Homo sapiens: one gene and its partners. The protein of the gene in region 3 interacts with the protein of the main gene of each other region in a biochemical or structural test. Each region holds a gene or a part of one and is shown on either strand. Other genes may lie near its edges.

Region 1 (4,213 bases), on a different chromosome or scaffold from region 3:
GTGCCTTTTATTCTCCTTCACTTCATGCAACTAACAAGGGGCATTTTCCAGACACCCACAAGTATGCAATATAAAATGAAAATAAAGGCCAGGCATAGTGGCTGACACCTGTAATCCTAACACTTTGGGAGGCCAAGGCAGGAGGACTGCTTGGGGCCAGGAGTTCAAGACCAACCTGGCCAAAATAGTGAGACCCCATCTCTATAAAACAAAAAAAATAAGGCCCAGGCGCTGTGGCTCACGCCTGTAATCCCAGCACTTTGGGAGGCCGAGGTGGGCGGATCATGAGGTCAGGAGATCAAGACCATCCTGGCTAACATGGTGCAACCCCGTCTCTACTAAAAATACAAACAAATTAGACAGGCGTGGTGGCAGGCACCTGTAGTCCCAGCTGCTCAGGAGGCTGAGGCAGGAGAATGGCATGAACCCAGGAGGCAGAGCTTGCAGTGAGCTGAGATCATGCCACTGCACTCCAGCCTGGGTGATAGAGCGAGACTCCATCTAAAAAAAAAAAAATACACAGGGGTTTGCTCAGCTACAGAATCTTATCAACTCTAGTCCGTGGGTCCTGCTAAAACATACAAACCTTTTGTTTTTGGCTCTAGGGATTTCTTTTGACTAGAATCTTGTGTTTCAGTCCACTTCCTCTTCCTTCCAGGCCTTTCTAGAGTAGGTGAGTTCTGCTGGTGATCACAGTCACTAGCCTCCAATTTCTCTTGATGGTGTCTATAAAACAACAAAACAATAGAATATTTCTCTTTCTCACATGCTCCATTAGAATATATCATTAACATTATTTATAGCTGGGCACAGTGGCTCACACCTGTAATCCCAGCACTTTGGGAGGCCGAGGTGGGCGGATCACGAGGTCAGAAGATCGAGACCATCCTGGCTAACACGGTGAAACCCCGTCTCTACTAAAAATACAAAAAATTAGCCGGGTGTGGTGGCGGGCACCTGTAATCCCAGCTACTCGGGAGGCTGAGGCAGGAGAATCACTTGAACCTGGGAGGCAGAGGTTGCAGTGAGCCAAGACCGCACCACTGCACTCCAACCTGGGCGACAGAGTGAGACTCCATCTCAAAAAAAGAAAAAAAAAAGAATATCATTAACATTATTTATTTATTTATTATTTTGAGATGGTGTCTTGCTCTGACGCCCAGGCTGAGTGCAGTGTGTGATCTCAGCTCACTGTAACCTCTGGCTCCTGGGTTCAAACAATTCTCTTGCCTCAGCCTCCCGAGCAGCTGGGATTACAGGGGCGCACCACCACGCTCAGCCAATTTTTTTTTGTATTTTTAGTAGTGACGGGGTTTCATCATGTTGGCCAGGCTGGTCTTGAACTTCTGACCTCAAGCGATCTGCCCGCCTCAGCCTCCCAAAGTGCTGGGATTATAGGTGCCTGGCCAACATTATTTATCATATGCCACACATTACACTGAATCCTTTACATGGATTATCTGATTAAGTCTTCTCAACATAAGATGACTGTTGTGGAAGACTAAAAAAAATTAAAAATCTTCTCGACTGGGCGTGGTGGCTCACACCTGTAATCCCAGCACTTTGGGAGGCCAAGGCGGGTGGATCACCTGAGGTCAGGAGTTCGAGACACAGCCTGACCAACATGGAGAAACCCTGTCTCTGCTAAAAATAGAAAATTAGCCGGGTGTGGTGGCACATGCCTATAATCCCAGCTACTCGGGAGGCTGAGGCAGGAGAATCGCTTGAACCCAGGAGGTGGAGGTTGCAGTGAGCCATGATTGCGCTATTGCACTCCAGCCTGGGCAACAAGAGCAAAACTCCGCCTCAAAAGAAAAAAAAAATCTTCTCAACATCCTATATCATAAATATTATTATCTCCGTAAGGGAAGGAGAAAGGAGGCTTACAGTTGCTACTCCAGCTCCTAGCAGAGTCTATGAGGAGGCATTCAATAACAATTTTTTTTTTTTTTTTTGAGATGGAGTCTCACTCTGTCGCCCAGGCTGGAGTGCAGTGGCACGATCTCAGCTCACTGCAACCTCCGTCTCCTAGGTTCACGCCATTCTCCTGCTTCAGCCTCCCGAGTAGCTGGGACTACAGGCGCCCACCACCACGCCCGGCTAATTTTTTCTGTATTTTTAGTAGAGACAGGGTTTCACCATGTTAGCCAGGATGGTCTCGATCTCCTGACCTTGTGATCTGCCCGCCTAGGCCTCCCAAAGTGCTGGGATTACAGGCGTGAGCCACTGCGCCCAGCCTCAATAACAATTTGATTGAGTGAATGTTTTGGGGTTTTTTTGGTTTGTTTTTCAGAGACACAGGCTCACTCTATTGCCCAGGATGGAGCACAGTGGCACAATCATAGCTCGCTGCAACCAAAACTCCTGGGCTCAAGTGATCCTACCGCCTCAGCCTCCCAGATAGCTGCGACTACAGGCACGTGCCACCATGTTCAGCTAACTTTAGTTTTTTGGAGAGATGAGGTCTCACTATGTTGCCCACACTGGTCTTGAACTCCTGGCCTCAAGCAATCCTCCTGCCTCAGACTCCCAAAGTGCTGGGACTATAGATGTGAGCCACCATGATCAGCCTGAACATTTTGGTTATTACAAAGCGACTATATTACTGCCACCTTGCAGCTAGTTTCACTGAAAATACTTCTGGTTTTAATGTGCTGCTCATCTCTCATATCAGAATTGTTTATTACCCCATTGACAGAGGACACTGACTAATTTGCCTAAGGTCATTTAACTTAAAAGTATTAATAGCAGAGCCAGGACTTGAACCCCAGCAGTCTGGTCCAGAGCCCACACTCTTGACCATGGAAGAGTGTGGCTTAATCTTGTGACAAAGAACCAGAACGCCAAGGAGAAGGTCCTAGAGCGGCAAGGGCCTGAGGCCTTAAAGGAAGGGGCCCTAAGCAGGATTTGTGTATAGCTCTATTCTGGGCTGGCAGCAGGGTGCCCACTGTTTTCAAACTGTGCAATGTTACCCAAATAACATCAACTACACTTGTGGGATCCAACTGTGGGCCTTTATTCCCCTACATCCCAACCCTTCTGAGCAGCTGAGTTGACTATTTAATGGGCAATAAGGTTACTATAAAGCCAGAGGGTCGGGTAGGGCTGTGGCCCAGGAACTTGCTCCCTCATGGGAGAATTTTTTGCCATCAAGCAGTGGAGACTCTTCTCCCTGCCAAGTCTGAAAAGGAAGTCCTCTTGAGAGATCACTGTGTGAGATACTTCCTACTGACTCAGTGCCCAATCCTGCCCAACACACTTCCCAGAGGTCCTTGCAGCAGGCTGTGGACTTGACTGCGATTTCTGCTAATGAGATTCTCTCCTGAGAGATTTGGAAGGCAGAAGGAGGACAGAGGCCATCATCCTGGGACTGTGGAGCCTGACAAGTAATCTTTTTTTTTGAGACGGAGTCTCACTCTGTCACCCAGGCTGGAGTGCAGTGGCGCAATCTCGGCTCACTGCAACCTCCACCTCCCGGGTTCAAGGGATTCTCCCACCTCAGCCTCCCAAGTAGCTGGGACTATAGGCATGTGCCACCACGCCTGGCTAATTTTTGTATTTTTAGTAGAGACGGGGTTTGCCATGTTGGCCAGGGTGGTCTCGATCTCCTGACCTCAGGTGATCCACCCACCTCGGCCTCCCAAAGTGCTGGGATTACAGGTGTGAGCCACCATGCCCGGCCTGATCCTATTATTGCGCTATTTATAGCCAGTAATCCTTTCTAGTGTGGGTGTGGTGGCTAGACGCTGGAGTCCACTGTCCGTCACCAACTTCAGGAGACTGAGACAGTTCAATAGCAGCAGAAGCGGAATTGGTTTGTTGAACTCTGACGGCAACATCGGAGGAGTGACCCTGACTTCCACTTCTCCAGCCCTTTTACTTTTTTTTGTTGTTGTTTTTTGAGACAGTCTCATTCTGCTGCCCAGGCTGGAGTGCAGTGGCACAATTTCAGTTCACCGTAACCTCTGCCTCCCAGGCTCAGGCAATTCTCCTGCCTCAGCCTCCCTAGTAGCTGGGATTACAGGTATGGGCCCAGCTAATTTTGTATTTTTAGTAGAGACAGGGTTTCACCATGTTGGCCAGGCTTGTCTTGAACTACTGGACTCAGGTGATCTGCCGGCCTCAGCCTCCCAAAGTGCTGGGATTATAGTCATGAGCTACCACGCCCGGCCTCAGCTCTTTTAAGTACTTTTTGCCTAAGTACTTAAATCTC
Region 2 (4,213 bases), on a different chromosome or scaffold from region 3:
TACTTTTACCAGATGCTCAGTATCCTATTACTGCTGTGTCCCTTATGGAAGCCTTGAGTGCAGATAAGGGTGGCTTTTTATACCTTAACAGGGTGTTGGTCATCCTCTTACAGACCCTCCTACAAGATGAGATAGCAGAAGACTATGGTGAATTGGGAATGAAGCTGTCGGAAATCCCCTTGACTCTGCATTCTGTTTCAGAGCTGGTGCGGCTCTGCTTGCGCAGATCTGATGTTCAGGAGGAAAGCGAGGGCTCAGACACAGATGACAATAAAGATTCAGCTGCATTTGAGGATAATGAGGTACAAGATGAGTTCCTAGAAAAGCTGGAGACCTCTGAATTTTTTGAGCTGACGTCAGAGGAGAAGCTACAGATCTTGACAGCACTGTGCCACCGGATCCTCATGACATACTCAGTGCAAGACCACATGGAGACCAGACAGCAGATGTCTGCAGAGTTGTGGAAGGAACGGCTTGCTGTGTTGAAGGAAGAAAATGATAAGAAGAGAGCAGAGAAACAGAAACGGAAAGAAATGGAAGCCAAAAATAAAGAAAATGGAAAAGTTGAGAATGGGTTAGGCAAAACTGATAGGAAAAAAGAAATTGTGAAGTTTGAGCCCCAAGTAGATACAGAAGCTGAAGACATGATTAGTGCTGTGAAGAGCAGAAGGTTGCTTGCCATTCAAGCTAAGAAGGAACGGGAAATCCAGGAAAGAGAAATGAAAGGTAAAATTTCATGCTGAGAGAAAAGGGGAAGCTCTGTAGAAGATAGTAAAAGAAAGGAAATTACTGAGGTAATGGTAGGGTCTCTGTTTGTTTACTTATTTCTGTATGTAATAACCCAGCACCTATTGGTATGTATTTTATTTTTTATTAGTTCTGTTGATAATTTCATATTTCAGCTGGAGTGTTCAGCCTGGCATTCTGATTAGTTAATAAGTTAATGTGATGTTGGCATCTTTTCTGGGTTCAGTAAAGGACCAAATCTACAAATAGAAATAGTGGAAACAACATAGGACTTGGGAGTTGACTGACCTGGGTTCAGGTTCTAGCTCTGACTTAGCTGTACAGTGTTCCTTTGGGCAGATTACTTATCCGTGCCTCACTTTCCTCATATGCTTGATAAGATTGTTGTAAAATTGATTGACAAGGTATTTGAAGCCCCTAGCACGGTCACCAACTCAGATAGTAATCTGTCCTTTAAGATTTAAGAACTTAAAAATTTTGGGCTTTGATGGCTCCATCGAATCTGAACTTTTAAAAAGCAGCTTTATTAAGAAATAATCGACATACAGTATAATTAGTTCACTTATTGTGTATAATTTAGTGTTTTCAGTAGAGTCACAGATAATGTACAACCATTGCCAATTTTGTAACATTTTTATCATCTCAAAGAAACCTGCTACCCATGAACTGTCATTACCCCATTCGCCCATCCTCCCCAGCCCTGAGCAACCACTAGTCTACTTTGTCTCTATAGATTTGCTATTCTAGGCATTTTCTCTAAATGGAATTGTATAATAAATAGTCTGTTGTGACTTTCACTTAGCATAATGTTTTACATGCTACAACATGAATGAATCTTGAAAACATTATGCTAAGTGAAAGAAGCCAGTCACAAAATAGACCACCTCTATTTAGTTCTAAAACATTTTTTTTTTTTTTTTTTTGAGATGGAGTCTCGCTCTGTCACCCAGGCTAGAGTGCAATGGTTTGATCTTGGCTCACTGCAACCTCCGCCTTCTGGATTCAAGCGATTCTCCTGCCTCAGCCTCCCGAGTAGCTGGGATTACAGGCATGCGCCATCATGCCTGGCCAATTTTTGTGTTTTTGTAGAGATGGGGTTTCACCGTGTTGGCCAGGCTGGTTTCGAACTCCTGATCCACCCGCCTCAGTCTCCCAAAGTGCTGGGATTACAGGCGTGAGCCACTGTGCCCGGCCAGCCACCATGCCGGGCCAGCCACCATGCCTGGCCCCAAAACATTTTTAAAAGAAAACCCAAAAGTCACTCACTCTTCTCCCTTGTCCACATCCCCCAGCAACCACCAATCTGTTCTCTGCATCTATGGATTTACCTATTCTGGATATTTCATGTAAATGCAATCATATAATATGTAGCCTTTTTATGGCTGGCTTTTTTCACTTAGCATGTTCTCCAGGTTCATCCATGTTGTAGCATGTGTTAGTACTTCATTCCCTTTTATGGCTGGATAATATTCCATTGTTTGGATATACCACGTTTTGTTTCTCATTCATCACTTGATAAACATTTAGATTGTTTTCATCTTTTACCTATTATGAACAATGCTGCCATAAATATTCATGTATGAGTTTTTGAGTAGTCATATACTTAAATTTCTTTAGAGTAAATACCTCGGAATAAGATTGTTGGGTCATATGATTATGTTTAACCATCTGAGAAACTGCCAGACTGTTTTCCAAAGTGGCTGCACAATTTTACATGCCCACCAGCAGTGAATTAAAGGTTCTGACTTTTCTCCTTCCTCATCAATACTTGTTATTTTCTGACTTTTTGATGATAGTCATACTAGTGGGTGTGAAATGGTATCTCATTGTGGTTTTGATTTGCATTTCTTTGATGGCTAATGATGTTGAACCATCTTTTCATGTGTCTCCTGGCCACCTGTGTATCTTTGGCGAAGTATTCAGATCATTTGCCCATTATTAAATTGAGTTATCTGATTATTATTGAGTTGTAAGAGTTCTGTATATATTCTAGATACAATTCTCTGTCTGATACCTGGTCTACAAATATTTTCATCTATTTTGCGTGTTGTCCTTTTACTTTTTTTGGGGGAGACGGAGTTGCGCTCTTTTTTGTGCCCAGGCTAGTGCAGTGGCGTGATCTCAGCTCCCTGAAACCTCTGCCTCCTGGGTTCAAGTGATTCTCTTGCCTCAGCCTCCCGAGTAGCTGGGATTACAGGCGTGTGCCACCACACCTGGCTAATTTTATATTTTTAGTAGAGGTGGGTTTTCACCATGTTGACCAGGCAAGGTCTCGAACTCCTGACCTCAGGTGATCCGCACGCCTTGGCCTCCCAGAGTGCTGGGATTACAGCTGTGAGCCACTGCACCTGGCCTGTCCTTTCACTTTCTTAGTAGTATCATTTGAAGCACAAAAGTTTTTTAAATTTGATGAGGTTCATTTTATCTATTTATTCTTTTGTTACTTATAGATTTGGTGTTAGATTTAAGGATCTTTTGCCAAATCCAGGGTCATGAAGATTTACTCCTGTTTTCTTCCAAATGTCTTAATAGTTTTGCCTCTGAAATTTAGGTCTTTTATTTTCAGCTAATTTTTATAGTGTAAGGTAAAAGTCCAGCTTTATTTTTTTTTGCATGTGGCTCTCCAGTTGTCCTAGTGCCGTTTTTTGAAATGACAAACCTTTCCCCATTGAATGGCCTTGATACGCTTGTCAAAAATCATATGACTGTAGGATACGTTGGCTTATTTCTGGACTCTGAATTCTATTTCACTGATCTGTATGTCTGTCTTTATGTAAAAGCCACACTGTCTTGATAACTTTGCTTTGTAGTAAGTTTCGGAATAGGGAAGTGTTGATCTTCCAGCTTGTTCTTTTTCAACATTTTCTTTTTTATTTTATTTTGAGACAAGGTCTCATTCTGTCACCCAAGCTGGAGTGCAGCAGTGTGATCTCAGCTCACTGCAGCCTTGACCTCTTGGGCTCAAGTGGTCCTCCCACTTCGGCCTCCCGAGCAGCTGGGACTTACAGGCATGTGTCAGCACGCCTGGCTAATCTTTTTATTATTTGTGGAGGCTGGTATTGAACCCCTAAACTCAAGCAATCTTCCTGCTTCAGCCTCCTAAAGTGCTGGGATTACAGGCCTGAGCCACCAAACCCCGGCTTGAATAGTTCTTTCATTAGAAAATGTATATTCCTTTTAAAACAAATTTTAGTTTACACTACTTAAGGCCATTGAAATATTTTTGCATATGTATGCATACTGTGCCTGAGTATACATATGTAATGTGTACTTTCCATTTTATTTATTTTTTTGGATACAGAGCGTCGCTCTGTCGCTCAGGCTGGAGTGCAATGGTGCGATCTGGCTCACTGCAACCTCCACCTCCCAGGTTCAAGCTATTCTCGTGCCTCAGCCTCCTGAGTAGCTGGGATAACAAGGCATCTGCTACCACACTCAGCTAATTTTTGTATTTTTAGTAGAGATG
Region 3 (4,213 bases):
GAATATGTAGCCATTAAAAAGAATTGAGGGAGATCTAGATGAACTGCCCTGGAAAATGGTTCATGACATACGTGAAAAAAGCAAATTAGTCACCAGTATGTGTAACTTTTGTTTTTGTTACTAAGCAAAAATTGAAATTATATGCATATGTATATAGAGATGTCCATTTAATCAATCAAGTCAGGAAGGATACAAACAGGCTGTAAGCAGATGTGGGGAACTTTCACTTCTGACATTATACAAAAAAGTTTAATAGAGATTAAAGATGACTTTTTACCTATTTAATCTTTCAAATTAAAAAAAAATTCCCACTGCAACTTCTAGGTTCTACTACCCAGGCTTCTAAGTAAAACTTAAGTGAATTCCGTTAACAGCTATCACATACATGTACACATGCTGCTAAAAACCTCGTATAAAGAATCCAAAAACGTTGCCTTAGATTCAAATATTTATCACAAATTTCATGAATAACTCTTTGCAATTTAAGAAATAGAGAGTGCATATAGTAGCAAGGGAAAAGCTTAATAAAGTCAATGTTTACAGAAAATCAAAAGCCACTGTTTTGGAAAAGTGAGTTCAGTTAAATCAACCACTGTTTTCTTCCCCAGAATGCTTTGTTCTAGTACATTTACATTTGAGAGATTAAGCATTGTATGTCTCATTAAAGCTCCCTCTGGAAATAGCTTTTAGAGTATTTTAGGCACTATGAGAATATGCTAGGCAACAGATAAAATAGGACCTATAATAGTAAGCAAGTGATAATAGCATGCCAAATGCAGAATTTAAAAAATAAAATAACTCCAAAGCAAGGTCAGGGAAAAAGAGCAAGTACCAAGACTCCACCGTCCCTGAATTAACTGTGTGCCTTATCCACGTCCACCCCCACCCTTTCTAAAGGGTAGAGTAAGAAACACAAAGATGTATGGGACACTAGATTTAGCTCTTATTAATTCAACTACCTTTAAGACAAATCATAAGGGACATTTTTGTTTTATTTTATAAGCCTGCTTTTTTTTTTTTTTTTGAGACAGAGTTTCGCTCTTTTTGCCCAGGCTGGAGTGCAATGGCGCGATCTCAGCTCACCACAACCTCCACCTCCCGGGTTCAAGTGATTCTCCTGCCTCAGCTTCCTGAATAGCTGGGATTACAGGCATGTGCCACCACCCCAGCTAATTTTGTATTTTTAGTAGAGACGGGGTTTCTCCATGTTGGTCAGGCTGGTCTTGAACTCCTGACCTCAGGTGATCCGCCCACCTTGGTCTCACAAAGTGCTGGGATTACAGGCGTGAGCCACTGCACCCGGCCAAGCGTACGTTTTACATATGTGAGAATCTGAATGATTTGAGTCTTTGACTCATACTTTCTGTCAAGTATGAAATGGGCCATGTCTGAATTATTAGATTTAAATATAGTGTTCAAACTAAAAGTAGTAGTACAGGTGTGGTGGCTCACACCTCTAATCCCAGCACTTTGGAAGGCCGAGGCGGGCAGGTTACTTGAGACCAGGAGTACGAGACCAGCCTGGGCAACATGGAGAAACCCTGACTCTACAAAAAACACAAAAATCACAAAAATTAGCTGGGCCTCACGGTTCATGCCTGTAGTCCCAGAAACTCAGAAGGCTGAGGTGGGAGGATCACCTGAGCCCAGGGAGGTAGAGGTTCCAGTGAGCTATGATCGTATCACTGCTCTCCAGCCTGGGTGACAGAGTGAGAGCCTTTAAAAAAAAAAAAAAAAAAAACAAACAAAAAAAACTAAAAAATCTGAAATAATGAAAAAAATTACTCTGGAAGGACTGTTCTAATATACCACTCCTCCTAAGATAGGACCACTTGTTGAAAACCAATGACTGGAGATACAACTTACAGATAGAATATGGATTAACTCTTCCATGGTGAAAGTGTGACATGCTTAGTCCTATTCCAAACAAGACAGGCCACCCAGTTTGAATATCCTAAAGCCTTTTTAAGCAACCAATCATGAGGGCTGGGCCATTCTGTTGCTGCCATAGGGATCCTTATAGACCAAGAGTGGAAGCAGAACTGGAATCAAAGGCTCAAAACACTATTAAAACAAACCCTGCTTTCACATAGCTGTGTCTGGAAACATGCAAATAATCCAGGAATTGGCCATAGGCAACCAACGTGGTCAAAACTAAAGCTTAGAACTATCCGCAGAAATTGGCCGGATGTGGTGGCTCATGCCTGTAATCCCAGCACTTTGGGTGGCCGAGGTCGGCGGATCACAAGGTCAGAAGATCGAGACCATCCTGGCTAAGATGGTGAAACCCCGTCTCTACTAAAAAATACAAAAAAAAATTAGCTGGGCATGGTGGCGGGTGCCTGTAGTCCCACTACTCGGGAGGCTAAGGCAGGAGAATGGCGTGAACCCAGGAGGTGGAGCTTGTAGTGAGCCTAGATCACACCACTGCACTCCAGCCTGGGTGACAAAGAAAGACTCCATCTCAAAAAAAAAAAGAACTATCTGCAGAAATAATGGCTTTTCTGCAGAGATTATGCCTTTCTTTCTTCTCCAAATTTCTAGCAATATGAATAAAAGACCCTAGAGTAAAAGGCATAGGTGTAAATGCAGTCCCTCAAGACTAAGAAAGCTGGGCATGGTGGCACAGGCCTGTAGTTCCTGCTACTGGGGAGACAGAGGAGGGAGAATCACTTGAGTCTGGGAGTTAGGGAGCTGTAGTACTCTATGATCGTGCCAATGGATGGGCACTACACTCCAGCCCGCACAACATAACAAAATTCACACCCACCTTTTTTTTTGAGAGTCTCGCTCTGTCACCCAGGATGGAGTGCAATGGCACAATCTCGGCTCACTGCAACCTCCACCTCTCCTGGGTTTAGGCAATTCTCCCACCTCAGCCTCCCAAGGAGCTGGGACTACAGGTGCGCGCCACCACATTCAGCTAATTTGTTTTTAGTAGAGACAGGGTTTCACCATGTTGGCCAGGCTGGTCTCAAACTCCAGACCTCAGGTGATCCACCTGCCTTGGCCTCCCAAAGTGCTTAGGATTACAGGTGTGAGCCACTGTGCCCAGCCAAAATTCCCTCTTTAAAAATCAGAATTTTTAGAGAATTCATCAAAATTTACTGATGTTAATCTTTGCTGATATCCACCCCCTCCTATATATAGTTCAGATGGAGGCAGTTAAGTAGAGTTGCTGAGAAAATAGAACCTAAACTTTCCTTCCTGTCAAAAAAAGTGAAATGCATCAATCCTGCTAAGGAGAGTCCTCATAATCCCTCCTGTCTCTTTCATTCCACAAAACCACACTTGAATAAACTGCTCAACATCTTAATCAATACTAATAAATTGGTCATATGACAAATTCAACTGTATTTCAATATATAAATAGTATGGCTATGTTCTAATAAAAGTTTGTATTTATGAACACTGACATGAAAATTTTATATAATGTTCAAGTGTCATGAAACAGTTCTTTCAATTTTTTCCCCAGTCATTTAAAATTAATTATTAGCAGGGGGTGGAGGTGGGATTGGGAAGACGCTGGGAAGAATAAGTTCAGGAGATCTATTGCTGACTATAATTAAGAACATATTGTAGCCGGGCGCGGTGGCTCACGCCTGTAATCCCAGCACTTTGGGAGGCTGAGGCAGGCGGATCACCTGAGGTCAGGAGTTTGAGACCAGCCTGGCCAACATGGTGAAACCCTGTCTTTACTAAAAATACAATAACTAGCCGGGCGTGGAGACAGGCGCCTGTAATCCCAGCTACTTGGGAGGCTGAGGCAGGAGAATCGCTTGTACCTGGGAGGCGGAGGTTGCAGTGAGCCAAGATAGCGCCACTGCACTCCAGCCTGGGGACAAGAGCGAGACTTCGTCTCAAAACAAAAACAAAAACAAAAACAAATATTGTATACCTGAAAATTATTAAGAGTACATTTTAAATGTTCTCACCACCAAAAAAAAGTATGTGAAGTAATGAATATTAGCTTGAGTTAGCCATTCCATAATGTACACACATCAAAACATCATGTTGTACACCACATAAACTTTATTTGTTGATTTAAGTAATAAATTAATGCTTAATGCTTAGCTCACAGCCTATACAAAAACATGGAGTGGGCCACATTTGGACTGAGGCCATAGTACGCCAACCCCTGTATTAACCTAACACAAGAGAATGTCAATTAGTTAAACTGCCAGTCGCCACTTAATAAATTTTAGTATGTACC
Region 4 (4,213 bases), on a different chromosome or scaffold from region 3:
TGGCAACAGCCCTTGGCCTCTCAACTCCACCCTCCTCTGAACTGCTCAACTCCCTTCTATCCCTTCCCTCCAAAAGTGGCTCCGTTTCCACAGCCCCATGCAGGCCCCAGATGCCCCCAGCAACAGGAGAGCTCTCCCCACCCAGCCAGCATGCAGGGACTAGAAACCGTGAGCCCAACCTCCTAAACCTTCTGCAATCTGTGACCTAACCCAGGCTTAGGCCCAGCTTGGGGGAAGGGAGCAGATGAGGTGCTTTTAACCCCTGAACCACCCAGCCCTCAGGACCTGAGGGCTTATGAAATTCACACAATAACTCTTTGTTACCTAGGATTACCTAGGAGTTAACAAAAATAAACAACTGGCTTTGAATCTGGTCTCAGGGTGCATGCCCTGCTCTTCAGATACCATTTACAAGATGGGTAAGTGTCATCTCCCTCCCATCTAAAAACAGTCCCCCTTAGAGCCTTAACTCTGGCATCTTGCTCTTTGTTATTCTCTCTCCATGACCTTTTTCCTTTTCTTTTTTTTTCTTTCCACAGCAGGTTATTTTTCATTTACTTTCAAATAAAAATTAGATGTCACACTTCTTTTCTTCTTGAACCTGCTTTTTTGTGTTTAGGGTGGAATCACTGCCCACCCCCTAACCTTTTAGCCATGCATGATTCATACCATGTGTTCCTACACAGAGAAGCAAACTGTATTATTTTCTAAAACAGTATCTTTCAGAAAACATTTGTATAAATGGACAAATTTAAGTTTCATAAAATGGTCCCTACTATAAAAGCTCACTTGAACAAGTAAATGGTGGTGGCAGTGGTGGTGGTGGTGGTGGTGGTGATGATGGTGGTGGTAGTGGTGGTGGTGGTGGTGATGGTGGTGTTGGTGGTGATGGTGGTGGTGGTGGTGGTGATGGTGGTGGTGGTGGTGGTGATGGTGGTGGTGATGGCGGTGATGGTACTGGTGATGGTGGTGGTGGTAGTGATGGTGGTGGTAATGGTGGTGGTGGTGATGGTGGTGGTGGTGGTAGTGATGGTGGTGGTAATGGTGGTGGTGGTGATGGTGGTGGTGGTGGTAGTGATGGTGGTGGTAATGGTGGTGGTGGTGATGGTGGTGATGATGGTGATGGTACTGGTGGTGATGGTGATGGTGATGGTACTGGTGATGGTGGTGGTGGTAGTGATGGTGGTGGTAATGGTGGTGGTGGTGATGGTGGTGGTAATGGTGGTGGTGGTGATGGTGGTGATGATGGTGATGGTACTGGTGGTGATGGTGATGGTGATGGTACTGGTGATGGTGGTGGTGGTAGTGATGGTGGTGGTAATGGTGGTGGTGGTGATGGTGGTGGTGGTGGTAGTGATGGTGGTGGTAATGGTGGTGGTGGTGATGGTGGTGATGATGGTGATGGTACTGGTGGTGATGGTGATGGTGGTGGTGGTGGTGATGGTACTGGTGGTGATGGTACTGGTGGTGATGGTGGTGGTGGTAGTGATGGTGGTGGTAATGGTGGTGGTGGAGATGGTGGTGTTGATGGTGATGGTACTGGTGGTGATGGTACTGGTGGTGATGGTGATGGTGGTGGTGGTGGTGATGCTACTGGTGGTGATGGTACTGGTGGTGATGGTGGTGGTGGTAGTGATGGTGGTGGTAATGGTGGTGGTGGTGGTGGTGGTAGTGATGGTGGTGGTGGTGATGGTACTGGTGGTGATGGTGGTGGTGGTAGTGATGGTGGTGGTAATGGTGGTGGTGGTGATGGTGGTGGTGGTGGTAGTGGTGGTGATGGTGGTGATGGTACTGGTGGTGATGGTGGTGGTGGTAGTGATGGTGGTGGTTGTGGTGGTGGTGGTGATGGTGGCAGTGGTGGTTGTGGTGGTGGTGGTGATGGTGGTGGTGGTGGTGGTGATAGTAGAGCCTTCACATTTTAACTACAATGATGTGCATTTTTCTCTAAAACCAGGAGAAAAATTAGTCAAAATTATGTGTGGGCATGAATATACAACATATACTATGTTCAAATACACATGTAAATACATAAGGAATATGCATTGGAATAACTCTGGAATAACCCTAAACTGACTCCTTTTGATTCTGGCCTTGGCTAAAGATGTGTGCCATGGACTATACCCAAAGTCCTAAATGAGGCCACAGGAGTGAATGTCCAGTAATAAAATGGGCTCCAGAGGCACAGGCATCTTCAATCACTAGCCACGGAGCAAGACAAGACCCTGGGGAGAAGACCCACAGGGATGAGCTACTATCAGCTCCCAGCCTCCAGTGAGGAAAGAAAAAGGGGAGGGAAGAAGTCCCTCTGGGGCTGAGTGGAGTGGGGAGCGGCTGCCAAGTGAGTAATGGAATAATACATATGACAATCTATTTTGGAAGTAACTCCTTCAGTACTTAAAAAGTAAGGGCAATTTCCAGAAATTCTCATCTCTATACACATGGACATTTGTAGAAGAAATAAGGCTCAACTTACAAATACCCTGCGGGGCATATTCTGCACTCATCCCAGGCGTGGGGATTAGAGCTCCATGTGCAGAACGAGGGGAGGAGAGGCCCCTCCAGTGCAGAAGTTTATCTGTGAAAGAAACCCAAAATCAAGCACTACAGCTACAAACAACGTGCATCATAAACCACAGGATATCACATTTCAATTCCATTAAAATAGATTACAACATCATTACAACAGCCTTGCAGATAGTTAACAGGCCCAAGGCCTGAAACAAAAGAAGAGTGGTGAGTTATTTCCCAGAGTTTCTGTTTTGTTTTCAATTTCGGTCTTTTTGACAAAAGTGAAAGGGTTTGTTTTAGGAAAGGGGAGAGGTGGTCTTTGGTTCATTTGCTTATTTATTTGTTGTTGTTTGATTATTGTCTTGTGGAAAGAAGATGTGTAAGCAGCAAGGGGAAAACTGGTAATATTGTGGGTAGCCTGGAAACATGGGGGGATTTTATCTGCAAGGCTGGTTTACATGCATACATTAACTTTACTTTATAGACAAACCCAAGCAAAAAGCAAAATGCTGATAGGAAATGAGTAGATTTGTGAATCGTTTTTTATGGGACAGAGTCCCACTTTGCTTTCTCTGTCCCTCTGCCCCCCTCTTCCCATGCTATATTTATGATAGCGCCTTCAGTGATAGGGGAAACCTGGGCATTTCTGGACTGAGCTGGGCCATACTCTAGAATCCTGTCAACTGGAAACCTTACACAGATGTGGCTTCTCACAATACAAAGCAATGGAAGATAAAGATTAGACTTCTGGGGTCCAAATAACTTTGACCATTAAATGACAAGGAAAGAACCAGCATTCCAATAATGCCAGCACCCAGAAACCCTGACCCATCTTCACCATTTTACTGCACTTTGTTGTACTCTGGTGAAGACAAGTGACTTCTCACACTAATAAAATGAATCTAATAGTCAATGAAACATTTGTAGCACTGAGATTTTTTTGAGAAGAGGAAAATTTGGTTTGTGCAATCTGGGGATTTTACGGTTTATGTGGTAAGTGCCTAGCTTTTCCAAGTCCTCCTCTAGCTAACTAACCATGTAGCTGTCCATCTTGAGACAGACTGGAGGATAGATGGTGCAGGAGACGCTCTGTGTGTTCTAGAGGTTTGGAGTTCATGATGATTGGGGAGGGCGGGAGACAAGAAAAACAGACTTTGATGGTGAACAAACAGTATGTTTTCCATTAGCTTAATATTAAGAGCACTTAGAAGTGTTGTTGTTGTACTCTAGGATAGCAGGTCTCAAGTGTAAAATACATCCTGTTCTCCTTATATAGAGCACACTGCCAAGCACAGCCAAGGCAGTTGGGACAAGATTTCCTTTCGCAAGGAGCCTGGTGGGTAACGATGGTGTGCTGCTGAGAAGGCTCTTACACAGACAGCATAGGTCTGCTGTTACCAGGCCTGCAGAGGGAAGCCCTGGTGGAAGCACCACCTAGCCTGAGAACATCTACAGAGACATTTCATCCTCTCTGACCCAAAACAAAATAAACACCACAAAGTGAACCAACACAAGCAGGAAGACCGGACTTAACAAACAAGTATGTCTACATTTGACTGTTTACGTCAAGTGAATTGAGAGTGTGGCGTAAAATTACTACAGATTTTGTCATGGTATTTTTCAATGAGAAATCTGAGAATCCATCTTTGCACTTGTTTTTGCCTCAGCCGTTCACTAAGTTTGCTGCCAAAACAGACATCCTTTT
Region 5 (4,213 bases), on a different chromosome or scaffold from region 3:
CAGCCTCCCAAAGTGCTGGGATTACAGGTGTGAGCCACTTTGCCCAGCCTCTTCTAAAGATAATTTTATTTATCTAATGTTGTTTTCTTTTAGGCCTTTTCAGATATTAATGGCAAAGTTCAGACCATTGTTTTGACATCTGGTACATTATCACCAATGAAATCCTTTTCGTCAGAACTTGGTGTTACATTTACTATCCAGCTGGAGGCTAATCATATCATTAAAAATTCACAGGTTAGTTGTTGTTTTTTTTTTTGGAAGGCCTTCAGTGTTTCTACTTCAATATAACTATGTAAACAAGTTAGAAGATACCTGAAGTGCCAGCAAGTAAATCTTGGTAGGAAATTCAACATTCCAGTTTTACAATAAAAGAAAATCTGTCAGCTACTTAATGATGTGTCAACAGAAGGAAATAATCCAGTCACTTGGGATGCAAAAGGCTGTATTTCAGCTTCTTCTTCTAAGTAAGTTTTAGTTTTGTAATGAAAACAAAATTTTGATTTCTTTAATTCTCATTGTATAATTATGTTTTATTTATTGATTGATTGATTTTTGAGACAGAGTCTGGCTCTGTTGCCCAGGCTGGAGTGCAGTGGTGTGATCTTGGCTCACTCGTGTTTAAGCAATTCTCCTGCTTCAGCCTCTCAAGTTGCTGAGATTACAGGTGTGCGCCGCACGCCTGGCTAATTTTTTATTTTTTTGGTAGAGATGGGGTTTCAGCATGTTGTCCATTCTGGTCTTGAACTCCTGCCCTCAAATGATGCACTTGCCTCAGCCTCCCAAAGTGTTGGGATTACAGGCGTGAGCCACTGTGCCCAGCCTATTTATATTTTATTTATTTTATCTCTGTATTTTTATTTTTACTTTTATTTTTTGAGACAAGGTTTTGCTCTGTCACCCAGACTGGAGTGCAGTGGTGCGATCTTGGCTCACTGCAGCCTTCGCCTCCTGGGTTCCAGCGGTTCTCCTGCCTCAACCTTCTGAGTAGCTGGGATTATGGGTGTATGCCACCATGCCTGGCACATTTTTGTATTTTTAGTAGAGACGGGGTTTTGCCATTTTGGCCAGACTTTATCTTTTTAGAGACAAGGTCGCTTGCTATGTTGCCCAGGCTGGCTTCAAACTCCCAGGCTCAGGCAGTCCACCTGCCTCAGCCTCCTGAGTAGCTGGGACTACAGGCATGTACTACCATGCCCAGCTTGTATAATTATTTATGCTTCTCTTTTCCATTAGACTACAGTGTATCCTGATTCTTCCTTTTACATCCACGTTCTTCCTCTGTGCCTAGATTAATAGCTGGTATTTAGCAAGTGTTCAGCATGTTTGAATATCTGAAATGAGTTAAAAGTACTCTTATGAGTCCTATGATTTAAGATTTTAATGTTTTATAACGATGGCTACTAAATGTTATTTTAATTTTTGTGGAAATGTATAGATTGTTATTTTTCATTATGCCTTCTGGTTTCTTTTTATGAAATATTTTAAAGTGGTTAGGCACACAGGTGATGTTAAGCTGTGGTTAATGCTAAAGTGGTTAAGTTAACATCACCTGTGTGCCTAACACAATGCTAGCTCTTTATTAAGCTATATACACAGGTTTATAGGTGGGAACATTTTTGGTCCTCACAATTACTTGGGAGCAACTACGGCATTTGGTAGTTGGGAACCTAGAATGCTACTCCTATGTAACTAAGAATTGTGCTTTCCAAATGCCAGAGTGTTCCTGCTGAGAAATGTGACTATGAACAGCAGTGAAGGAAGAATACATGTTCCACGTTTTCAAGTTGCTTTCTTTAGAGACACAGATAAATATGGGAAGTTGGTAAATTCAGCATACGTTTTCTCATAAGAATGTTATTACAGGCTCTATGTTCTCAGCCTACTGCACAAAAGTCCATTTAACCTATAATGTCGCTGAATTATAATAATGTAGTTGTGCAGCTGGATTCTGTTACACTGTAATATTTTCCTTCAACTTAAAATTTAAAAAACTTTTAATTGTGGTAGAATATATATAAAATTTACCATCTTAACCATTTTTGAGTATACAGCTCAGTCTTATTAAGTATGTATATGTTGTTGTGCAACCAATCTCAAGACTTTCTCCTCTTGAAAAACTGAAACTCTGTTCCCATTAAACAACAGCTCTCTATTCTCCCCCTCTCCTCAGCTCCTGGTAACTACCATTCTGCTTTCTGTTTCTATGAATCTGATTACTATAAATACTTCATATAAGTGGAATCATAAAATATTTGTCGTTTTTGTGACTGGCTTATTTTACTTAGTAATGTCCTCAAGGTTTGTCCATGTTGCAGATAATGTCTTCAAAGTTCATCATCTATGTTGTAGCATGTGCCAGAGTTTCCTCTTTAAAGGTGAATAATGTTTCTTGTGTGTATATGCCTGTGATTTATAATATATATATTTGGTCTTCCACTCCATTTCCTGGCATACAACTCCTAAAATCCTTAGAATCTCCAAAGTGACATTTTGTATGCTAATGAGATGACTAATGGTAGGGGGCTCCTAGGTAGCATCAGGATCAGGGCTGGCCTCCGGGAAGACCAAGACATGATAGGAGAGTTGGGATTTTCACCCCCATTCCTCAACCTCTGGGGAGGGCTTGGGGGAGATGATGCTAAAGGTTAAGTTTATCTTAATGGCCAGTGGTTTAATCAATCATGCCTACATAATGAAGCCTCCATAAAAACCTAGAAGGACAGGGTTCAGAGAGCTTCCAGATAGCTGAACACTTGGAGGTTCCTGAACACTTGGAGGGTGATGTGCCTGGGAATTGAAGCTCTGAGCCCCTTCCCACATACATCTCTTTATCTGTATCCTTTGTAATATTTTTTCTAATAAATCAGTAAGTGTAGGTAAATGTGTCCCTGGGTTCTGTGAGCAGCTCTACCAAATTAATTGAACCCAAGCAGAGGGTTGTGGGATGCCCGATTTCTAGCTGATCAGTCAGAAGTGCAAGTAAAAACAACTGTGACTGGCCACAGAAATCAGGGGCAGTCTTGGGGACTGAGCCCTCAACCTCTGGGATCTGAAGTTATCATCTCCCAGTAGATAGTATCAGAATTGAATTGAATTAGAGGACACCCAGTTGATGTCTGTTGCAGAATTGATTGCTTGGTATGTGGAAAAAACCTCCCACACATTTGGTCACAGAAGTTTTCTGTGTTGATTGCTGTGGTGTGAGAGCAAAGGAAAAAGTTTGTTTTTTTCTACTCAATGCTACATTTTGATCATTCATTCATTGATTCTTTCAACTGTATTTCAAAAAATTAGAAATTTCAGAAAAGTTGGAAAGATAATATTAATATTGTGAATATCTTTATATCCTTCACCTAGATTCATCACTTGTTAACATTTTGCAAAATTTTCGTCTCTCTCCCTCTCTCTACATATAAGGGAGATAGAATTGCAAATAACTGTAAGATGTGGTGGGTGTGATTTTTTTCTATGACTAAGGATCTTTGAGCACCAATGAATTTTTGAAAGAGTAGTTCCTGTCATTTTTGAGACTTGCCTATGGCAAATTATACTGGCCTTCATCCCCAGTATTTTGGAATTATCTGATTCTGCTATTGGTATATATTCATCATTTCACTTGTTCATTTATTCACCTAACAAAAATTTGTTACATGCTTAAATTTTGCAAAGCTATTAAGTAAACAGAGACAGGTACAACCTGTTTTGCTTTCAAAGAATTTTCACTCTAAGAGAATTTAGTGATCTGCCTAAAGCAAAACATTTATAAATTAAATCTGTATACAGTTAATTGAAGGTAATAGAAAACCCCCTGACAATTTAAAAATAAATTGTTAAACTTGTTGCTTGATCTTTTATGTACATACTTCCAAATAAATACTAATTTCCATGCCTTTTTCAGGCATAACTCTAATAATGACATATTCATATTCTAGGTTTGGGTTGGTACCATTGGGTCAGGCCCCAAGGGTCGGAATCTCTGTGCTACCTTCCAGAATACTGAAACATTTGAGTTCCAAGATGAAGTGGGAGCACTTTTGTTATCTGTGTGCCAGACTGTGAGCCAAGGAATTTTGTGTTTCTTGCCATCTTACAAGGTAAGGGAATATTTATTGTTTCTTTTGCCTTTAAATAATCATTTACATTTTAAACATTGGCATGCTAATTTTAAAATTACCACAGTAAGCTTCCTAGGGTAGAGGCAACAAGGTAATAA
Region 6 (4,213 bases), on a different chromosome or scaffold from region 3:
TTACTAAGCCTCACTATAAGCAGATGCCGGCACCATGCTTCCTATACACTTTGGAGAACCGTAAGCCAATTAAGCTTCTTTTCTTTATAAATTACCCAGTCTCACGTATTCTTTTATAGTAATGCAAACAGACTAATACAGCTCCCTAGCCTATCTGCATAGAAAATGAACTTCCCCTTCCCCCACCCCTCTCCCAACCCGGCAAAATGTACCATTACCTGGTAATGCTTACTTAAGTTTTTTACTACACAATGCCTGGCATTCAATAAAAAATTATGAGACATAAACAAAACAATCAACAGACTTGACCTAACTGACATTTGTAAAACACTCCACCTAACAACAAAACACACATTCTTTTCAACTGCACATGAAGAACACTTACAATGATAGAATATATTCTAGGCCATAAAATAAATCCGAATAAATTTAAAATTATCTCATTACAATGGAATTAAATTAAAAATAACAATGATCTCTGGAAAATCCTCAAATATTTGAAAACTATATAACACACTTATAAATAAACTATAGACCCAGTAAGACATCAGGAAAGAAATTATAAAGTACTCTGAATGGAATGAAAATGGAAACATATCAAAAACTGGAAACGGCCAGGAGTGGAGGCTCACATCTGTATCCCAGCACTCCAGGAGGCCAAGGAAAGAGGATTGCTTGAACTGAGTTCAAGACCAACATGGGCAACACAGTGACATCCTTGTCTTCAGAAAAAATTGTAATAAACTCTGGCCAGGTGTGGTGGCTTACACCTGTAATCCTAGCACTTTGGGAGGCTGAGGCAAGTGGATTGCCTGAGCTCAGGAGTTGACGACCAGCCTGGGCAACATAGTGAAACCCTATCTCTACAAAAAATACAAAAATTAGCCAGGCATGATGGCACGCGCCTGTAATCCCAGCACTTAATAGACTCTGGTGCGAGGATCTCTTGAGCCTGAGACGTCGACACTGTGGTGACCCCGTGATTGGGCCACTGCACTAAAGCCTAGGCAACGGAGTGAGACCCAGTCTCAAAAAAATAAAAATAAAAATAAAAAATTAGCCAGGCATGGTGGCACATGCCTGCAGTCCCAGCTACTCAGGAGGCTGAGGTGGGAGGATCACTTGAGCCTGAGAGGTCAAGGCTGCAATGGGCCATGATCACGATACTGTACTGCCTGAGCAGTAGTGAGACCTTGTCTCAAAAAACAAATAAATAAATTATAAACAATTAAAGGGAAGTTTATAGCATGCTTACATTAGAAAAGAAAAAAGGTCACAAATCAATGACCTCAGCTTCTATCTTAAGAAACCAGAAAAAGAAAACAAATTAAACCCAAAAGTAAGCTGAGGAAAGGAAATAAAGACCAGGGCGGAAATAAGAAAACCACAGGCAGTCAATTAAACTAAAAGTTAACTTTTTAAGAACCTCAATAAAATTAATAAACTTCTAGCCAGACTAATCAGGGAAAAGGGGAGCAGAGACAAATTACTAGTATTCGGAATGATACTAAATCTCTACAGGTTATACAGATATTAGACTCATTACACTTTCTACAGATATTAAAAGAACAATAATAGAGTATTATAAGCAACTTTTTGCAATAAATGCAACAAGTTAAATGAAATGGGTAAGTTCCTTCGAAAACTTATCAGGCATGTGAAGAGACGGAACAATACAACCATATGACCAATAACCAACAGAAAAACAAACAAGATAAACAGACCAATAGATGATGCCGATATTGGAAAAGACAAGCATTTAAATAACTATAATTAGTATGTTCAAGAGAACTGGAGTCTATTACAAGTCTATAAAACAACATCAAAGGAATACTCTAGAACTCAAAACCACAATGTAAAATTAAGAACACAAAAGATTATTTTGACAAAAAGAGAAGATAGTTTTGGCATACTGGAAGGCAGGTCGATAGAAAATATCCAAACAGAGAAAAAAATTTTTTTCAACATGTGGAACATGATAATTAAGTTTAATATATGTGTAATTAGGATCCAAAAAGAAAAAAGGGGCAGAATATATGAAAAGGTGGTAACAGAACTTTCCAAAACTAAAAGGCATCCAGCTAGATTCAAAAAACTCTATAAACATAAAGCAACAAAGAAAACCACATCTGAACACATCAAAGTGCTTTAAAAGTAACACAGAGAGTCTTAAAATTAGCCAAGGAAAAATAAAAGACACATTATCCTCAGCAAGAATATAGCTAATACATTGCCTTCAATAAGACTGGTAGCTGACTTCAACAAAAAGAAAGGAAGACAGAAAGCAACCAAACATTCTTAATGTGTTGAAAGAAAATAACTACCAACTTAGAACTTAATAGCCAGTGAAAACACACTTCAGGCCAGCCACAGTGGCTCATGCCTGTAATCCTAGCACTTTGGGAGGCCAAGGTGGGCAGATCACTTGAGGCCATGAGTTTGGAGACCTGCGTGGCCAACATGGCAAAATCCTATCTCTACTAAAAATACAAAAAATTTAGCTGGGTATGGTAGCACATGCCTGTAATCCCAGCTACTCAGGAGGCTGTGGCATGAGAATCATTTGAACCCAGGAGGCAGAAGCTGCAGTGAGCTCAGATCACGCCACTGCACTCCAGCCTAAGCAACAGAACGAGACTGTCTCAAAAAAACAACAACAACAACAACAAAAAAAACACCAAAAACCACTTCAAAAAAGGTGAAACTGCCGTGCATGGTGGCTCACACCTATACCCAGCACTTTGGGAGGCCAAGGTGGGGGGATCTCTTAAGCCCAGGAGTTCAAGAACAGCCGGGGCAACATGACAAGACCCCGCCTATACAAAAAATTTAAAAATTAGCTGGGCATGGTGGCATGTGCCTGTGGTTCCAGCTACTGAGGAGGCTGAGGTGAAGGATTGCCTGAGCCCAAAAGGTTGAGGCTACAGTGAGCCATGTTCACACCACTACACTCCAGCCTGGGTGCCAGAGTGAGACCTTGTCTCAAAAAAAAAAAAAAAAAAAAAAAAAAAAGGTGAAATTGAGATATTTTCAGAGAAACAAAAATAGAAAAAATCACTGATACTAGGTAGGCCAGTATCAAAATGCATGATATAGGGAAGTGACAGTATTATTATCCTAAAAATTGAAAACAACTTCAATGTCCAACAGAAGATTGATAAGTAAATTATTACACAGAGATGAGAATGTTACATACCTACTAAAAATAATCACATAGCAGAAAAATACTGACATGAAAATATGTTGATGATTCACTGTTAACTGAACAGCTTGCACTGCAGTGGACTACATTAGGAGCCCATAACATCATATAAGTATACATATACTTATGTAATGGCTCAACAAAATGCAGGAAGCAGATAGATAATCAAGAAGATTAACAACAGCACTTTCGGTGGTATGATCTCCAATGATATTAATTTTTTTTTTTTTTTTTTGAGACTGAGTCTTGATCTGTCGCACAGGCTGGAGTGCAATGGCGTGATCTCTGCTCACTGCAACCTCTGCCTCCTGGGTTCAAGCAATTCTCCTGCCTTAGCCTCCCAAGTAGCTGGGATTACAGGCACCCGCCACCATGCCCGGCTAATTTTTGTACTTTTAGTAGAGACAGGGTTTCACCATGTTGGCCAGGCTGGTCTCAAACTCCTGACCTCAAGTGATCCACCCACCTCAGCCTCCGAAAGTGCTGGGATTACAGGTGTGAGCCACTGTGCCCTGCCTAAAATGTAATCTATGCTTTCTTACTGTTTCCCACATTAGGGATGTGCTATTTTTTAATTGGGGGCAAGAGAGGAGGGGAGAGGAGGGGAGGGGAGGGGAGGGGGGAATGGAGAAAGGCAACTCTTTACATTAAACCATATTTTAATACAAATGATAAGTTCTTAGCTAGGCATATGGTCTAACCTTTATTGGTATATCCCCCATGTGTGCTTTTTAATTTTTTTTTGATACCAAAACCTGCCAACATGAATCAACCTGTACTTTCATTTTCCACTATTTGGACCTTGAGAGCTTGCTCGAAGGTTCTAGCAGGGGAGCGCAGCTGCTCGTATACCCTTGACCCAAGACCAGTCCTCCTCTATTTGGGATGGTTGTCCTCTTCAACCAAGCACGCAGCTTCAGCTTCAGGAGGGACGCACGTGGAGTGGAGAGGGAGGAAGGGGACACCTGCCGAGCCAGCCAGATGAGCTGAATCAACCCTGGGGATCAATGG
Region 7 (4,213 bases), on a different chromosome or scaffold from region 3:
TTTGGGAGGTCGAGGTGGGTGGATCACCTGAGGTCAGGGGTTTAAGTCCAGCCTGACCAACATTATGAAACCCCATCTCTACTAAAAATACAAAATTAGCTGGGCGTGGTGGCCCACACCTGTAATCCCAGCTACTCGGGAGGCTGAGGCAGAAGAATCACTGGAACCCAGGAGGTGAAGGTTGCAGTGAGCCGAGATTGCGCCACTGCACTCCAGCCTGAGCAACAAGAGTGAAACTCCATCTCAAAAAAAAAAAAAGAATTAAGAAAAAAAGTTTTTTTTTTTAAAGTACAGCAGAGGCTGGACACAGTGGCTCACACCTGTAATCCCAGCACTTTGGGAGGCCAAGGTGGGCGGATCATGAGGTCAAGAGATCAAGACCATCCTGGGCAACATGGTGAAACCCCGCCTCTACTAAAAATACAAAAATTAGCTGGGCTTGGTGGTGCATGCCTGTAATCCCGGCTACTCAGGAGACTGAGGCAGGAGAATTGTTTGAACCCGGAAGGAGGAGGTTGCACTGAGCTGAGATCGCACCACTGCACTCCAGCCTGGCGAGAGAGAGAGACTCCGTCTCAAAAAAAAAAAAAAAAGAAATAAAGTACAGCAGATGAATTCCTGTAACATCATCCATTGCATCCAGAAGCTAGCAGGAGATGAGAGTTTATGATAAGGCTCTAAGCTCAGGAGGCAGCAGAAGGGCAAGGCTTTCAAAGGCCACTCTTCACAAACTGAAGCACGCAGGGGGATGCCAGGAAATAGGACACACACAGCATCCTCCAGAAACTTCAGTTCTACTCAGAATGAAGCCATTTAGCATGTCACTGTGACACCAAAACATGACTCTCTCATGGACCCACTAACAGCACAAGGCAGAGGATCAAGGCCTGGGAGAGAAGGCCTGAAGCATCCAAGGAGCCTTGCGTCTGCCCAGGTGCTCGGCCTGTGCTCCCTGGCTCCCTGGAGTCACACACTCATGCAGCTTCGCGGAGCATGCGCTGCTCACAACTGTGTGGTGTCGGGAAGAGGAGGAATGGACTGTTCCCAGGAAAGAGGCAGAGAGCAGAGGCAAGCAGCTCTGTGCGGCAGGCAAGGCCTGACCGGCAGGAAGGCAAGGCCAGGCCAGGCCGCGACAAACTACAAGCCAAGCTGCCCTCCAGGCCACCGGCACTTTCCTCAGGGAAATGCCAAGCCAGCATGGTCGGATCTTCCAGTGGTGTTTCTTGCTTTGGGGTAATTTTTTTTTTTTTTGAGTTTTTAAATAGTCAAGCTCTCACTTTTCAAATGTTGGCAAATATTTTTAAAAATTTAAATGTGCAGGCCAAACAAGAGGCACAGGGAAACAGGCAGGCCACAGCCTCTGCAGCCCTGGGAAACGCTCTGAGTGATGGTGTACAGGCTATGCAGTGGGGAAGGAAGAACTCAGCACAGCCTCCAAGGACAACTTGGCAGTATCTATGGAAATTTTACATTCAATAGCCTTCGACCCAGCAATTCCATGTCTAGGAGTTGATTCTTTTGAATAATCACTTGTGAACAAAACACAGGTACAAGAATGTTCCCTGCAGTCAAGTTTCAGCTGGGCGCAGTGGCTCACACCTGTAATCCCAGCACTTTGGGAGGCCAAGGCAGGGCGATCACCTGAGGTCAGGAATTCAAGACCAGCCTGGGCAACATGGCAGAACTCCGTCTCTACTAAAAATACAAAAATTAGCTGGGCGTGGTGGCGTGTGCTTGTAATCCCGGCTAGCCGGGAGGCTGAAGCACGAGAATTGCTTGAACCAGGGAGGTGGAGGTTGCAGTGAGCAGAGATCACGCCACTACACTCCAGCCTGGGCAACGGAGCGAGACTCCGTCTAAAAGAAAAAAAAAAAAAATTTACAGGTCACACCTGTAATCCCAGCACTTAAGGAAACCAAGGTGGGGGAGGATTGCTTGAGACCACGGAGATCAAGACCAGTCCGGGCAACACGGCAAGACCTCATCTCTACCAAAAATAAATAAATAAATAAATAAATAACCTAAATTCCACATTCAAAAAAGGAATGGTTACATGGACTATGGAATCCTCATACGATGGGGAACTGTGCAGCCATTCGAATTAGGAAAAGCCCACATACACTGGTACGAAAAGAACACCAAACATTTTCAGTTAAAAAATCTACAACAATCACGTGTGCAGAGAGAAAATGCCCTCGTGGGTGTTTCTGGAGCAAACGCGTGATTACAGACCGTGGGGTCCGCCCCACCTCTCTGTGACTCGTGCTTCTCCGTCTTGCCCTGGTAGTCGAAGCCCACCGCGCTCTTGTCTACTCGGTCGGCCTGCACGCCATACTTGCCGCCAAAACCACTGGAGTAGTCTGGAGAGACAGGGCAGCAATTAGCACGGGGGCCTGAGGACGAACTACACTGTTCCTTTTGTTAAACTAAGCAAAAGTGTGTAGGGGTTACAACTCACAAACACATCAAGCGCACATTTTAAAATGTACAACAAGCCACCCACTGCTCCATACAGGTGACGCTGGACCCTGTTTCACAACAGGTGCATGGGGGGGTTCTGGGCCCTGTCAGCTGTTACAGGGCAGTTCCTTTGTGTAGTCAGAAATGACGCTGCATGCCCACTTTGAAAATCAACTGCTCAGGTAAAAGCTGGAAAGCTTCATACAAAGAACCAGCACTTTGGAGGCTGAGGTGGGCGGATCACTTGAGGCCAGGAGTTTGAGACCAGCCTGGCCAACGTGGCAAAACCCCATCTTTACTAAAAAATAGAAAAACTAGCCAGGGGTAGTGGCACACACCTGTAATCCCAGCTACTTGGGAGGCTGAGGCAGGAGAATCGTTTGAACCCAGGAGGCGCAGGTTGCAGTGAGCCGAGATCGTGCCACTGCACTCCAGCCTGGGCAACAGAGCGAGACTCTGTCTCAAAACAAACAAACAAACAAAACAAAATGAAAAAAATGGAAAGAGAAAGCCTCATATGAAGAAAGCCATGCAGCTGAACATGGGAGACAAGACCCTGATCCTCCGCCTGCCCACACCACAGCTACCTCCACCTAGACTGCACCGAGACTGCGTAAGGACTGAGAGCTTGTTCCGCGGATGATGCAATGACACAAAGGAGGAAGAACTAAATAAGCTTGCAAAAAATAAACTGAGAACTTTAAGGTGGCGATATGCTTTGGTCTTTCAAAAAAGAGACTGCATGATGTAATCAAGATTAATCACCAGCAGTTAAGACCGTATGTGTATAAGGAAAACAAGAATTTAACAACTCTGGTTTCTAGCCTTGGGGGGAAGTTAGCTTTCTGCCGATCAATCTGTGAGCTCTCTTTTCCAGGAGGAGCGCTGCCCAGATGAAGGGAAGGCGGCTTCCGCTACAAGGGGGAGAAGCCCCACAATGACAGCAGATGCCAGGGCTCCGAGGGGGATGTGTAACGGGGAATACATCCATCATGTGGTATCCAGATGATCCAGAAACATGAAGAGGAGGGCAGAGTCCTCCTTGTGGCAACAGCCACCGCTCAGGAAACGGCTTCAGGTGGCTGTGACTCTCCCCATCAGGGCCCCCGGAGCGCGGGGAAACGGCTTCAGGTGGCTGTGACTCTCCCCATCGGGGCCCCCGGAGCGGGCTCTTTCTGCACCTTTCGCGTCTTACCTTTCTGGGAGGCATGCTTCTCAGTCTTCCCCTGGTATTCAAAGCCTACAGCAGACTGTGACGACCAAAAACACATGAAAAAGTGGGGAGAAATACTTTCCAATGTCCCTGAAACAATCTCTCTGAATTCATGACATGACATTTAAAAAAATATGAAACACATGATGCTGTGACCTCTGGGTTCCTAAGCCAGGTGCAGGTGGCAGTGACGCAAGAGCTCTGGCATCCTAAACGGACAGGCCCACTGCAAGGCCCAGTGGGCGGCGCAGGCCAAGCCATATCCCTGGTGACCTGCCCTCCCCAGCATGCGGCAGCAGGGAATGCTCAGCTGATTCATTCCACGGGCTTCACAAAAACTCGCTTCTCAAATAAGTCATGCTGAGAACATTAGTATTAGTAATGAGAATAGCAGTGGCCACCAGGGGTGCACTCCCACCAGCCAGGCACTGCGATGGGCATCTGAGCAAACACCCGTGAGATAGGTATGATCATCCTCCTTTCACAGACACATAAATTCAGAACCGTGGCTAATATGTCACAAAGCCACAATCTGCGACC

What was found.
Region 1: the proteins of SIRT1 (region 3) and NMNAT1 form a complex in vitro, tested with the Homo sapiens proteins (one study listed by BioGRID).
Region 2: the proteins of SIRT1 (region 3) and BAZ1B form a complex in vitro, tested with the Homo sapiens proteins (one study listed by BioGRID).
Region 4: the proteins of SIRT1 (region 3) and BCL11A form a complex in vitro, tested with the Homo sapiens proteins (one study listed by BioGRID).
Region 5: of the proteins of SIRT1 (region 3) and BRIP1, one has a biochemical effect on the other in vitro, tested with the Homo sapiens proteins (one study listed by BioGRID).
Region 6: the proteins of SIRT1 (region 3) and CLOCK form a complex in vitro, tested with the Homo sapiens proteins (one study listed by BioGRID).
Region 7: the proteins of SIRT1 (region 3) and CTTN form a complex in vitro, tested with the Homo sapiens proteins (one study listed by BioGRID).

What each region holds. Positions count from the first base shown.
Region 1 is NC_000001.11:9,977,544-9,981,756, reverse strand, and holds part of NMNAT1 (nicotinamide/nicotinic acid mononucleotide adenylyltransferase 1), read right to left. Parts: intron 727-4,213; coding exon 587-726; intron 502-586; coding exon of another isoform or gene 458-501; exon of another isoform or gene 1-457.
Region 2 is NC_000007.14:73,473,381-73,477,593, reverse strand, and holds part of BAZ1B (tyrosine-protein kinase BAZ1B), read left to right. Parts: coding exon 1-726; intron 727-4,213. UniProt on the Homo sapiens protein: Atypical tyrosine-protein kinase that plays a central role in chromatin remodeling and acts as a transcription regulator. Involved in DNA damage response by phosphorylating 'Tyr-142' of histone H2AX (H2AXY142ph).
Region 3 is NC_000010.11:67,901,656-67,905,868, reverse strand, and holds part of SIRT1 (NAD-dependent protein deacetylase sirtuin-1), read right to left. Parts: intron 1-4,213. UniProt on the Homo sapiens protein: NAD-dependent protein deacetylase that links transcriptional regulation directly to intracellular energetics and participates in the coordination of several separated cellular functions such as cell cycle, response to DNA damage, metabolism, apoptosis and autophagy.
Region 4 is NC_000002.12:60,466,259-60,470,471, forward strand, and holds part of BCL11A (BCL11 transcription factor A), read right to left. Parts: intron 2,576-4,213; coding exon 2,474-2,575; intron 1-2,473. UniProt on the Homo sapiens protein: Transcription factor. Associated with the BAF SWI/SNF chromatin remodeling complex. Binds to the 5'-TGACCA-3' sequence motif in regulatory regions of target genes, including a distal promoter of the HBG1 hemoglobin subunit gamma-1 gene.
Region 5 is NC_000017.11:61,776,282-61,780,494, reverse strand, and holds part of BRIP1 (Fanconi anemia group J protein), read left to right. Parts: intron 1-93; coding exon 94-234; intron 235-1,716; coding exon of another isoform or gene 1,717-1,755; exon of another isoform or gene 1,756-2,249; intron 2,250-2,315; coding exon of another isoform or gene 2,316-2,375; intron 2,376-3,932; coding exon 3,933-4,094; intron 4,095-4,213. UniProt on the Homo sapiens protein: DNA-dependent ATPase and 5'-3' DNA helicase required for the maintenance of chromosomal stability. Acts late in the Fanconi anemia pathway, after FANCD2 ubiquitination.
Region 6 is NC_000004.12:55,536,589-55,540,801, forward strand, and holds part of CLOCK (circadian locomoter output cycles protein kaput), read right to left. Parts: intron 1-4,213. UniProt on the Homo sapiens protein: Transcriptional activator which forms a core component of the circadian clock.
Region 7 is NC_000011.10:70,415,160-70,419,372, reverse strand, and holds part of CTTN (src substrate cortactin), read right to left. Parts: intron 3,711-4,213; coding exon 3,656-3,710; intron 2,361-3,655; coding exon 2,250-2,360; intron 1-2,249.